Homo sapiens: one gene and its partners. The protein of the gene in region 2 interacts with the protein of the main gene of each other region in a pairwise test. Each region holds a gene or a part of one and is shown on either strand. Other genes may lie near its edges.

The links.
Region 1: the proteins of DUSP6 (region 2) and TXK interact in binary tests that used the Homo sapiens proteins (3 or more experiments, as listed by UniProt).
Region 3: the proteins of DUSP6 (region 2) and PHB2 interact in binary tests that used the Homo sapiens proteins (3 or more experiments, as listed by UniProt).

Annotation. Positions count from the first base shown.
Region 1 is NC_000004.12:48,127,542-48,131,291, reverse strand, and holds part of TXK (tyrosine-protein kinase TXK), read left to right. Parts: intron 1-3,750. UniProt on the Homo sapiens protein: Non-receptor tyrosine kinase that plays a redundant role with ITK in regulation of the adaptive immune response. Regulates the development, function and differentiation of conventional T-cells and nonconventional NKT-cells.
Region 2 is NC_000012.12:89,350,537-89,354,286, reverse strand, and holds the start of DUSP6 (dual specificity protein phosphatase 6), read left to right. Parts: upstream 1-1,785; 5' UTR 1,786-2,247; coding exon 2,248-2,647; intron 2,648-3,261; coding exon 3,262-3,699; intron 3,700-3,750. UniProt on the Homo sapiens protein: Dual specificity protein phosphatase, which mediates dephosphorylation and inactivation of MAP kinases. Has a specificity for the ERK family. Plays an important role in alleviating chronic postoperative pain.
Region 3 is NC_000012.12:6,964,814-6,967,801, reverse strand, and holds the end of PHB2 (prohibitin-2), read left to right. Parts: intron 1-22; coding exon 23-126; intron 127-195; exon of another isoform or gene 196-465; intron 466-466; coding exon of another isoform or gene 467-519; exon of another isoform or gene 520-553; coding exon 554-631; intron 632-1,301; coding exon 1,302-1,378; intron 1,379-1,885; coding exon 1,886-1,891; intron 1,892-2,089; coding exon 2,090-2,117; 3' UTR 2,118-2,475; downstream 2,476-2,988.

The DNA of each region.
Region 1 (3,750 bases), on a different chromosome or scaffold from region 2:
CCAAAAACATTTGTTGTTTTAAGCATTGTCATAGAATCCTGGCTTCAAAGGCTGCTATAGGGTGGGAGAAGATAATTGTGGAGCGTGGGATATTGATCATACTGATGGGAGATTTGGAGTGGGGTCTCAGGGCACTGCTCCAGTGAGATTCAGTTTGTGAAACGTACTTGGTATTGCCAGCATTTCCATCAACTCACAGTTGCCCTGAGAACAGATCCAGCCTAGAAGAGTTATTTAAAGGACAGGGCAAGGGAAAGCAGCTGGGGGCTTAAAGAATTCACCTCTTAGCTCCCCTGTTTGCCTAATTTCTCTGCCTTTCTTTATTCCCAACTTAGAGAGTAGAAAGAGTGGTTTCTAAGTCTTGGTGTGCCTGAAGCATGCCTGGGGTGCTGTTAAAAGGCAGGTTTCTGGGCTCATCTCCATAACTGGATCTGAGGGTAAAGTAAGGATGTTTTGGTCACACTGCCTTTCTTGGGCCTCTCTTTTCAGAGTCCTATCTTACTCCTTTTTGTATCTGATTCTCACACCAACTTTGTTAGGTCAACACCTTCCATTATTACTATTATGAATATGAAGATAAGGAGGGTAGCTGTGGTAGGCAGCCTCTAAGATGGCCTGATGATATCTGCCTCCAGATATTCACGCCCTTAGGCAGTCCTCCTCCTTGAGTATGAATTGGACCTAGTACCTCACTTCTTGTGATTAGAATATGGTAAAAGTGATGGAACGTCACCTCTGAGACCAGGTTACAGAGGTGGCGGCTCCCATTCCTGCGATCTCGGGCTTTCTGTCTCCTGCATCGCCGGCTGCTTTGTTGGGAGCACTCTCAGGCAGCCCGCAGAGAATCCCCATCACGAGAAACCGAGGCACCATGACCTGCTTGGAATTCGCTTAGAAGTGTATTCTCCAGCTCTGGTTGGGCCCAGCTTGACTGCAACTCCATGAAAGATCTGGAGACACAAGCACTCAGCTAAACCATTCCAGAACTCCTGGCCCACAAAAGTGTGAGATAAGTGTTGTAAGTCATTTGGTCTCAGAATAATTTGTTTCCAACAATAGATAACTAAGTGTGTGGCAAAAGCAGGAGAAGCCGCAGATTAAAAAAGAACTTGGCCACTTTGGCCACCCTTCTGCCTGGGGCTGGAGTTTGATGCCCTTTCTGAAAGATTAAAATGGACACTAGATGTGTCTTTTCTTTTGTCTTTAAATCATTTCAGTTTTTAACTCGTCACTGCAGCTGCCTTTTGTAACTACTGCAGATCCCCACATTTCTCCTCTGTGGAGCTCCCCAGGCCAGCAGTGCCCACACTCCCTGCCCACCGAGGGTCAGTGAGCAGTACGGCTTCTGGCCCAGTGCCAGCCACGCCCGTGTGCCTTGTGGCCAAGCACTTCTTCACATCACAAGCTGGCTCGATGTCTTGGGTGTGATGTCTGCGAGCTTATTATGAACTTTGAGCTCACAGAAAACAGTGTTCTAGGAAACACTGTTTTGAGATGTGGGGGAGTGGGGAAGTTGTGGGCAAGGTGCCTGCAAAGACCAACTCACATCAGCCCCTTCTGAGAAAGAAAGAAAAATTGCCTCATAGACCAAACAAGGGTTTGGGTGGCTGCTGTCCGTGTCTGGGGAGTTGCCCTGGCAGAAGCTGGGAAACAGATGAGCGGTCATCATCAGGAAGATTTCTGCCTTTCCTTACAGCACCTTTTACTCCCAGAAACATTGTCTTCCCTGGTGCCCGGGACTCCATCCAGCTTGCCAGGCTTCTAGAATCTCCTCACCCCACACAGCACCCCTTCAGGCCATAGACAGGTCAAGCACCACTCTTCCACTCAAATTGATCAGTTTGGTGTCCTGTTAGCTAGGTACTTGTTTTCTCTTAGTCACCAGTGACTCCCCTAAAGTAGTTATCCTCCCTTCTTTAAGGTTTCACTGGCAGTATAATGTCAAAAAAACAGAACAGTCAAGGTCTAACACAAATTACTCACTTATTTTATCCATACATTTAGAAAAACTAACATCTCTGGAGACCATCACTTCTTAGAATAATGGACATTTTAGTATCAAAAGGAAAAGTGCACACACGTGCGAACACAGACACAGGATCACTTCAGACCCCAAATGTATAAAGGGCATAAACTCAGAATAAAGGATAACTTTCTAAATTGAATAAATATGTGAAAAACTCAATGTCCCAATTTTACTATTTTCCCCTCTCCTTGGTGTGGGGTCTTGGTTTGGTGTCTAACTCCAAACCAAGAAGTCTAACTCCAACTTGGAAGTCTTTTCTAACTCCTGTTCAGAGGTAGAAATCCATCCATGCTATAGCCAAGCTAGTTATGTGTCACTCTCCCCAGATAATATGGGTTAATGTGGCTAAAACGTGCCTATCTTCAAAAGGCCCTTAAGAAATGGGGCCTTTTGAAGATAGGCTGGGCGCGGTGGCTCACGCCTGTAATCCTAGCACTTTGGGAGGCCGAGGCAGGTGGATCACGAGGTCAGGAGATCGAGACCATCCTGACTAACACAGTGAAACCCCGTCTCTACTAAAAATACAAAAAGAAATTAGCCGGGCGTGGTGGCAGACACCTGTAGTCCCAGCTACTCGGGAGGCTGAGGCAGGAGAATGGCGTGAACCCGGGAGCAGAGGTTGCAGTGAGCTGAGATCGTGCCACCACACTCCAGCCTGGGAGACAGAGTGAGACTCCATCTCAAAAAAAAAAAAAAAAAAAAAAGGATGTAGTGGTGGGCATTTATGGCAGAGTAATGAGGAAGTTTGGCCTTTCTGTAAATTTCTGGAAAAAAAAACAAAAAGGATATGTTGCAGCAAACTTACAGAATCAGCTCTGGTCACCCAGAGCCATTTTTCCAAAGCCACAAGTTTTTAAGGCTTTCCCCACTCACCACAGCCCATCAACTGCAAAAGCAGCCGGTATCAGACATTCCTCATCTTAAAACCACAACCTGGAGCGCCTGGCTTGGGCAACAAGCCTGGTCTTTGGGTTAAGGCAGCTCTCAAAACTGAGCCAGTTTCAAGCCATGTTTTTAAATATAAATCACTAGCCATGTGCCAGTTATTATGATGACCAAATTCAGTAGGAATGCATTTCACTCAAGGCACTGATTCAAAACGAAACCCTGACATCGGAAATGCCAGGGGATGAACTGGAGGTGACGATGTAAACTTCAAAACATTAGACATGAGGAAGCGACAGCGGCTTTGCTTCCCGCGCAGCCCGGGCCCCACAGTTCTTCACATCTGTTCCTTTGTCCTCTTCAGAGATGACCTTAGGAGCTATTCTGAGAAGGGGTGCTTCTCACTTTTGCTTTCTTCCAGTGCCCCCTGGTGGAAACCTGTTCCCAATCAGCCCAGCTGTTGCCACCCAGGAACCTCTGGGGGTGGAAGGAATGTCAATAGGAGCCTCTCCTAGAGGACAGAGGGGCGCAAATCCTTCCAAGGAAAAAACACAAATACCAAAGATGGGAGGGCCAACTGCCTATCCCATGACAGATGTGCCGGTTTCTAAAGGTCACAGAGATTACATCTGATGCGATGCCCTTTTTCTGATTTGCTGGCCTGAGGCTCATCATTAGAGATATTTACTGAGGAATGAGAAGTAGATGAAAAGAACAGCGCAGATGTAAGCCTGGGAGAGGAAGCTCAGCTCCTTCAGTGATAATCTTCAAGCCCGAATATATTCTTTCCACATTTCCTTCCAGCAGGCAAATAGTCATTGCCTATCTCTGGGGCATTT
Region 2 (3,750 bases):
CAAGGGACACTCCCCAAAGCCGCACCCCGCCGGACGGCTGCCCCCGCTTCCGCCTCTCAGGCAGCGGTGGGACAAAGCGCGGCCTCTTTTCCGCCGGGGTTTAGGGAGGGAAGGCCGGATTAGGGCCCGCGCCTTCCGGCTGCATCCCTCTCGCGCCGCGCCGGCCGCACACAGGTGGTTTTCCGCTCGGGAGGGGCAGGCTTCGGCACTTTTATATAACAATAGAGCTCTGCGCGCCGGGAACGCGCCTCCCCGCCGCCGCGGCCCCCACCCGGCCACGCCTCCATCCGGCTTCCAATCCGTCCGCCCCGCGGCGCCTGGGCCGAGTGCTGCTCGCTGGCCTGGCCCGCACCTCCCCAAAGTTACCTGCTGGCTTTGCAGCGCGGTAGAGACGTTCCCCTCGACTCCTTGGGAGCGAGGAGCCAGGGGGGTCCCGGCAGGCACTCGTCCTTGCTCCCCCCACCCTCCCCAGATCTCTATGGACCCGGGAGTCCCTCGCTGAGCCCCGCACCCGTCCACTGCGTCGCGCACAGCCCCGTGCCCAAGCGGGGAGACGGGGACGGCGGGGCGGTGGCAGGGAGCGCAGCGCGCAGGCGCGGCTGGTGCTCCCCGGAGTGCCCGGCGCTGGACAAAGGGAGGAGGCGGCGGCAGGAGAGGGCTGGGGAGGCCCCCTCTGACATGCCTCCCTGCCAACTGTAACCAATCGTCGAGCCCCCCTGCCGAGCCCCCGCAGCCTGCAGGTCTTGCGGGAGGACTTCCTCACGCCTCGCCCATGGCGGGGACTGCTGGCCCGGCCCGGCGCGTCCCAGCACACCTCGCTCAGGCAGCCCCGCCAGACCGGCTCCCCCGTCAGAAGCCGAGCTCCTTGCCCAGAAATCATTAACCAGCGCGACCTCCCAGCAGGCGATGGTGGTGGTGGGGCGGGGGGAGAGATATAGATTCCCCCGAACAATGGCTTGTAACTCCCCACGCCGCCGGAGCGGAATACAGTAAAAGCACTGGACTGACCTAAGAGTTTGTTTCTGCACTCTACATTGTTTTAATGAAAATAAAATGTTATTTTAAGAAAAAAGGTTTTCTTCTGATTTTCTGCACAACCAGACGTTTGTTTGTTTGCTTTAAAATGTTTCAACAAAATCCTGGTTTGTTTCGAAATATGTTGGATTAGCATTTAACACCTCATCGGTCACTAAAGCCCAGTCAGTTCACCAGCCCCAACACAGCCTCGGCTAAAAGAACATCAGAGCAAACAGAGCTGGGCCTTTAAAAGTGGCAAACAAATGCCACACACCGCCTAAAGAAGGGGGGTTGGGGGAGGGGAGGGTTAAGGCGAACTTGGGTCCAAATGAGTTTGAAGGGAATACAAAGAACGAAAAGTCAGCACAAGTTTTCCTAAAGCTAGCTCGCGAACGCAAGCGTCGCGAACAAGGGCTTTTGTGCATGCTAATTGCGCCATTGGTGCGCAAAAGTTCCGACGCGAAGTGTGAACTCTCAACAGAAGGAAACATGAGACAACTGAAGTGCCCTGGTTTATGTGCCCTGCTCCTCCTCCGCTGCCGCCTCCCCTTCTTTCTCCTTCCTCCCGCCGAGCCCGCTGTTGCAGCTTGTTTGCACTGGGGCTTATCCGGAGCGGAAATTCCTTTCCGTTTTTGTGAATGACAAACTCATTAACAATTCATCAACACAACCTGTTCCAGCCGGCCCGTCCCCACGGCAACAGCCCCTTCCGCAGCACGCTCATTGGCTGGCCCGGAGAATGTATCCATTGAGACGCTCGCTGTTTGTATCCATTGAGGAGCTGCCTCGCGCAGGGGGTGTGCGAGGCTGAGTCCAAGAGATAGCAAATCGAGTCTTAAATAATCCGGGGAGAAAGACGCCCGGGTAGATTTGAGGTGCAGCCTTGGAGGGAGGGATTAGAAGCCGCTAGACTTTTTTTCCTCCCCTCTCAGTAGCACGGAGTCCGAATTAATTGGATTTCATTCACTGGGGAGGAACAAAAACTATCTGGGCAGCTTCATTGAGAGAGATTCATTGACACTAAGAGCCAGCGGCTGCAGCTGGGTGCAGAGAGAACCTCCGGCTTTACTTCTGTCTCGTCTGCCCCAACCGCTAGCCTCGGCTTGGGTAAGGCGAGGCGGAATTAAACCCCGCTCCGAGAGCGGCAGCTTCGCGCGCGGTGCGCTCGGCCTATGCCTGCCCCGAGGGGCGTCTGGTAGGCACCCCGCCCTCTCCCGCAGCTCGACCCCCATGATAGATACGCTCAGACCCGTGCCCTTCGCGTCGGAAATGGCGATCAGCAAGACGGTGGCGTGGCTCAACGAGCAGCTGGAGCTGGGCAACGAGCGGCTGCTGCTGATGGACTGCCGGCCGCAGGAGCTATACGAGTCGTCGCACATCGAGTCGGCCATCAACGTGGCCATCCCGGGCATCATGCTGCGGCGCCTGCAGAAGGGTAACCTGCCGGTGCGCGCGCTCTTCACGCGCGGCGAGGACCGGGACCGCTTCACCCGGCGCTGTGGCACCGACACAGTGGTGCTCTACGACGAGAGCAGCAGCGACTGGAACGAGAATACGGGCGGCGAGTCGGTGCTCGGGCTGCTGCTCAAGAAGCTCAAGGACGAGGGCTGCCGGGCGTTCTACCTGGAAGGTACGCGCCCAGGGAACTCCGCGCGCGGGGCAGGGCTAGGGGCGCAGGGCTGCGGGCGGGGCGCGTGGATTGAAAATACCTCTGCTCCGCTCAGCTGGAGCTTCGGAGCCGCGCTGCCCGCCTAGGGACCGGCAGCCGGCGAGGTAGGGGCCGCGAACCGCGCGTTCCGCACCAGAGAACCGGGCCGGCTCAGAATCCACTCGCTTCCGGCTGCGGGTACCGGCGGTTTCTTTCTAACGGGTTCTGCGCCTTCTTAGCCAGAACATCCTCCACCATCACCCTGTTTTCTATCGTTCGATTTTGAATTAAGATTTGCAGGACGGGAGAGATTGTTGGGGATGCAAATTGGCACATCTTAGCTCTCAAAATATTCCAAAAAGTTGCCATTTTGTCTATTTCCGGATTCAAGCGAATAAGGGTTCCCTGGCGAGGCGGGCCCGTTCGTTCCATTCCCGATGGTGCACATTTAAAGTGTGTTTCTCTTATAGATGGTTCTGTATGTAGGGGGTTCGTAGGATGCTTGTGGTGTTTCTTGCGCCGGGCTGCGGTTCTTACAAGCTGTGAAAACTACTACGGCTTCTCAGGTTAGATGATTGCTTTTCTCGTTCTGGCAGGTGGCTTCAGTAAGTTCCAAGCCGAGTTCTCCCTGCATTGCGAGACCAATCTAGACGGCTCGTGTAGCAGCAGCTCGCCGCCGTTGCCAGTGCTGGGGCTCGGGGGCCTGCGGATCAGCTCTGACTCTTCCTCGGACATCGAGTCTGACCTTGACCGAGACCCCAATAGTGCAACAGACTCGGATGGTAGTCCGCTGTCCAACAGCCAGCCTTCCTTCCCAGTGGAGATCTTGCCCTTCCTCTACTTGGGCTGTGCCAAAGACTCCACCAACTTGGACGTGTTGGAGGAATTCGGCATCAAGTACATCTTGAACGTCACCCCCAATTTGCCGAATCTCTTTGAGAACGCAGGAGAGTTTAAATACAAGCAAATCCCCATCTCGGATCACTGGAGCCAAAACCTGTCCCAGTTTTTCCCTGAGGCCATTTCTTTCATAGGTGAGACTAATTAATAGTCGTCGCTCTGACATTTAAATGCAAAATTCCTAG
Region 3 (2,988 bases), about 82 Mb from region 2:
CCCTGACTCTCTCCCACCACAGCCCAGCAGGAGGCCCAGCGGGCCCAATTCTTGGTAGAAAAAGCAAAGCAGGAACAGCGGCAGAAAATTGTGCAGGCCGAGGGTGAGGCCGAGGCTGCCAAGATGATATCCTTCTGCTGGAGAGATCTCAGCCCAGCCCCTAGGGCACCTGAGTTCCCCATTCTCCTTCATGGGCAGGCTGATGAGACTAAGGCGAATGCGACTCCGTGCTCTCTGGCCCTTGGCTCCTTGTTGGGGGTGGGGACTACAGATGAGATCTGAAATCTTAGTGGTAGTACCTGAGCCATGACTCCCCACTGTAAGGCCAGATCAATAGCATTGGTGGCCTTGCCTTCATTTCTGGTGCTGCCCCTAGTTCCTGGCAGCAGCCTGCAGGGAGGCCCACAGGTGGGGTCCACGGTAGGGCTGGGCACAAGCCACCTGAGCGCAACCTTGGATCTGACAGCCCAGAGGAGGACTGGAGCAAGGGAGTGTGGTAAGGACAGGGCCAGGGATTGAGACCTGCCCTTGCGTGTACCTTAACCCTCCTCACCTTGGAGAAGCACTGAGCAAGAACCCTGGCTACATCAAACTTCGCAAGATTCGAGCAGCCCAGAATATCTCCAAGACGGTGAGTGTGTCAGCCCAGCGTCTCTGATGGGGCTGCCTTGAGAAAGTGCTTTCAGTTAAGGCACATTGAGGTGAGGGAATTCGAACCTTGCTTGTTCCGGTTTCTACTCAGATTGGCTTCTCTGGCCGGCGCGGTGGCTCACGCATGTAATCCCCGCACTTTGGGAGGCCAAGGTGGGTGGATCACCTGAGGTCAGGAGTTCGAGACCAGCCTGGCCAACATGGTGAAACCCCATCTCTACTAAAAATACAAAAGATAATGAGCCCGCTGTGGTGGCGTTTAGCTATATTCCCAGCTACGCAGGAGGCTGAGGCAGGAGAATCACTTGAACCCAGGAGGCGGAAGTTGCAGTGAGCTGAGATCATGCCACTGCACTCCAGCCTGAGCAACAGAGCAAGACTCCGTCTCAAAAATAAATAAATAAAAAATTGGCTTCTCCGATACTCCTCCTGTCAAGAATGATTCCTCTGGGTTCCCTGACCTTTTGTTCTAATCATAGCTGCTGCTCAGCGCTCTGGATCCCTAAGTGCGAGCAGAAACCATGTGTTACTCATTGCTGCACCCCTGCCCTAATCTGCATGTGTTCCATGTTAAGTAGCTGCTGAATTGCAGGGGTCGGAATTGAGGTCTTTGCTTAATGCAAGCATCTGTCTTATTTCCTGCCCTGTAGATCGCCACATCACAGAATCGTATCTATCTCACAGCTGACAACCTTGTGCTGAACCTACAGGATGAAAGTTTCACCAGGTGAGAGATGTGGCCACACTGTGGGGTATCACCAAGAACGTGGGACCTGAGTCTGGTTGTTTGGGCTCTGGAGCCTGCTACAGCTATTCATATGGCTCAGAGACATTGAACCAAAATTAGAAAAGGGGGTGGTTGACAGTTTCTATCTTGCATCTCATAGGATTGATTTTATGAGATCAAATAGGATTATTCACATAAAAAGCACTTTAATTATAAAGTTTTCATCTAACCAAAAAGTGATGAAAGATGATACTCAGTTTTCTTACTCAAGAGCCCTCAAACTCCTCTGGTGAATGGAGGGATGTTAGGAAAGGAGATGAGAAATAGCAGTGGCCATGAGAACATGCCTCCTCCTTTCATGAGCCTGAGATTCCTGGCTGTCAACCCTGTTTATCTTTTCTCTTGGGAGCAAAGGAGGGTTCAAAGCTGAGTGGGGCCTGAAGCTGTCAATTAACATGTGCATTTCTCTTCTCTGTTTCTTGTTCATCTGGCGATCTGGCACCACAGGGGAAGGTAAGCTGTTGTTGCTTCTGTGGGGTCCTGCAGGCCACCTTCTCCAGTACCCGCCTCCTACCCTACCCCCTTTCCCACCTCCCCGAAGACAAACCCTCAATCAGGGTAGGAGGGTCGTAGAGGGAATGGCCTAGAGTGTCCTGCCTCTCACATTTATGTCCCCTAATAATGTCATTATCTATCTTTTTTTTCCTACAGTGACAGCCTCATCAAGGGTAAGAAATGAGCCTAGTCACCAAGAACTCCACCCCCAGAGGAAGTGGATCTGCTTCTCCAGTTTTTGAGGAGCCAGCCAGGGGTCCAGCACAGCCCTACCCCGCCCCAGTATCATGCGATGGTCCCCCACACCGGTTCCCTGAACCCCTCTTGGATTAAGGAAGACTGAAGACTAGCCCCTTTTCTGGGGAATTACTTTCCTCCTCCCTGTGTTAACTGGGGCTGTTGGGGACAGTGCGTGATTTCTCAGTGATTTCCTACAGTGTTGTTCCCTCCCTCAAGGCTGGGAGGAGATAAACACCAACCCAGGAATTCTCAATAAATTTTTATTACTTAACCTGAAGTCAAGGCTTCACGTGTTCATGAACTGGGTAACTGGCAGCAAGCATGCGCACGTTCACATGTGCGCTCCTGGGTCTGTCTTTGTGTGTGCCAGCAGGGGGCGCAAAAGAATCTGGCTGGGGCGGCTAAGGGGAAGCAAGGCCTGGGCTCCGAAACAGGACCCAAGCTGGGAAGGCTGGCCCTGAGTTCTCGAGGCCCAGCTGTGCTCTTCACACACCCTCCATTTCTCCCACATCACCCATTTTTTTAAGGCTGGACAGCCATGGCTTTGCTGAGCCAGATTAAAAATCTGATGACCCCAACAGGAGCTGCTTCCTTGGCAGCAGGGTTCCTTGTGGCTGTGGGGAGCCTGCCTGTGCCTGTTGAGGCACTTCTGTGCCCAGAAGCCCAGTGGATCGCGTGGCCTGCTGTAGGCCCCCCAGACTCCATTTCTCAGTCACCAGGCGTGAGGAGCTGCTAGCTAACAGGCCTCCCCTGGGGAGGTGGGCTTTTCATGCCCGCAGTTCCGGGGCCAACAGAACAGGTGCCTGTCTGTTCAG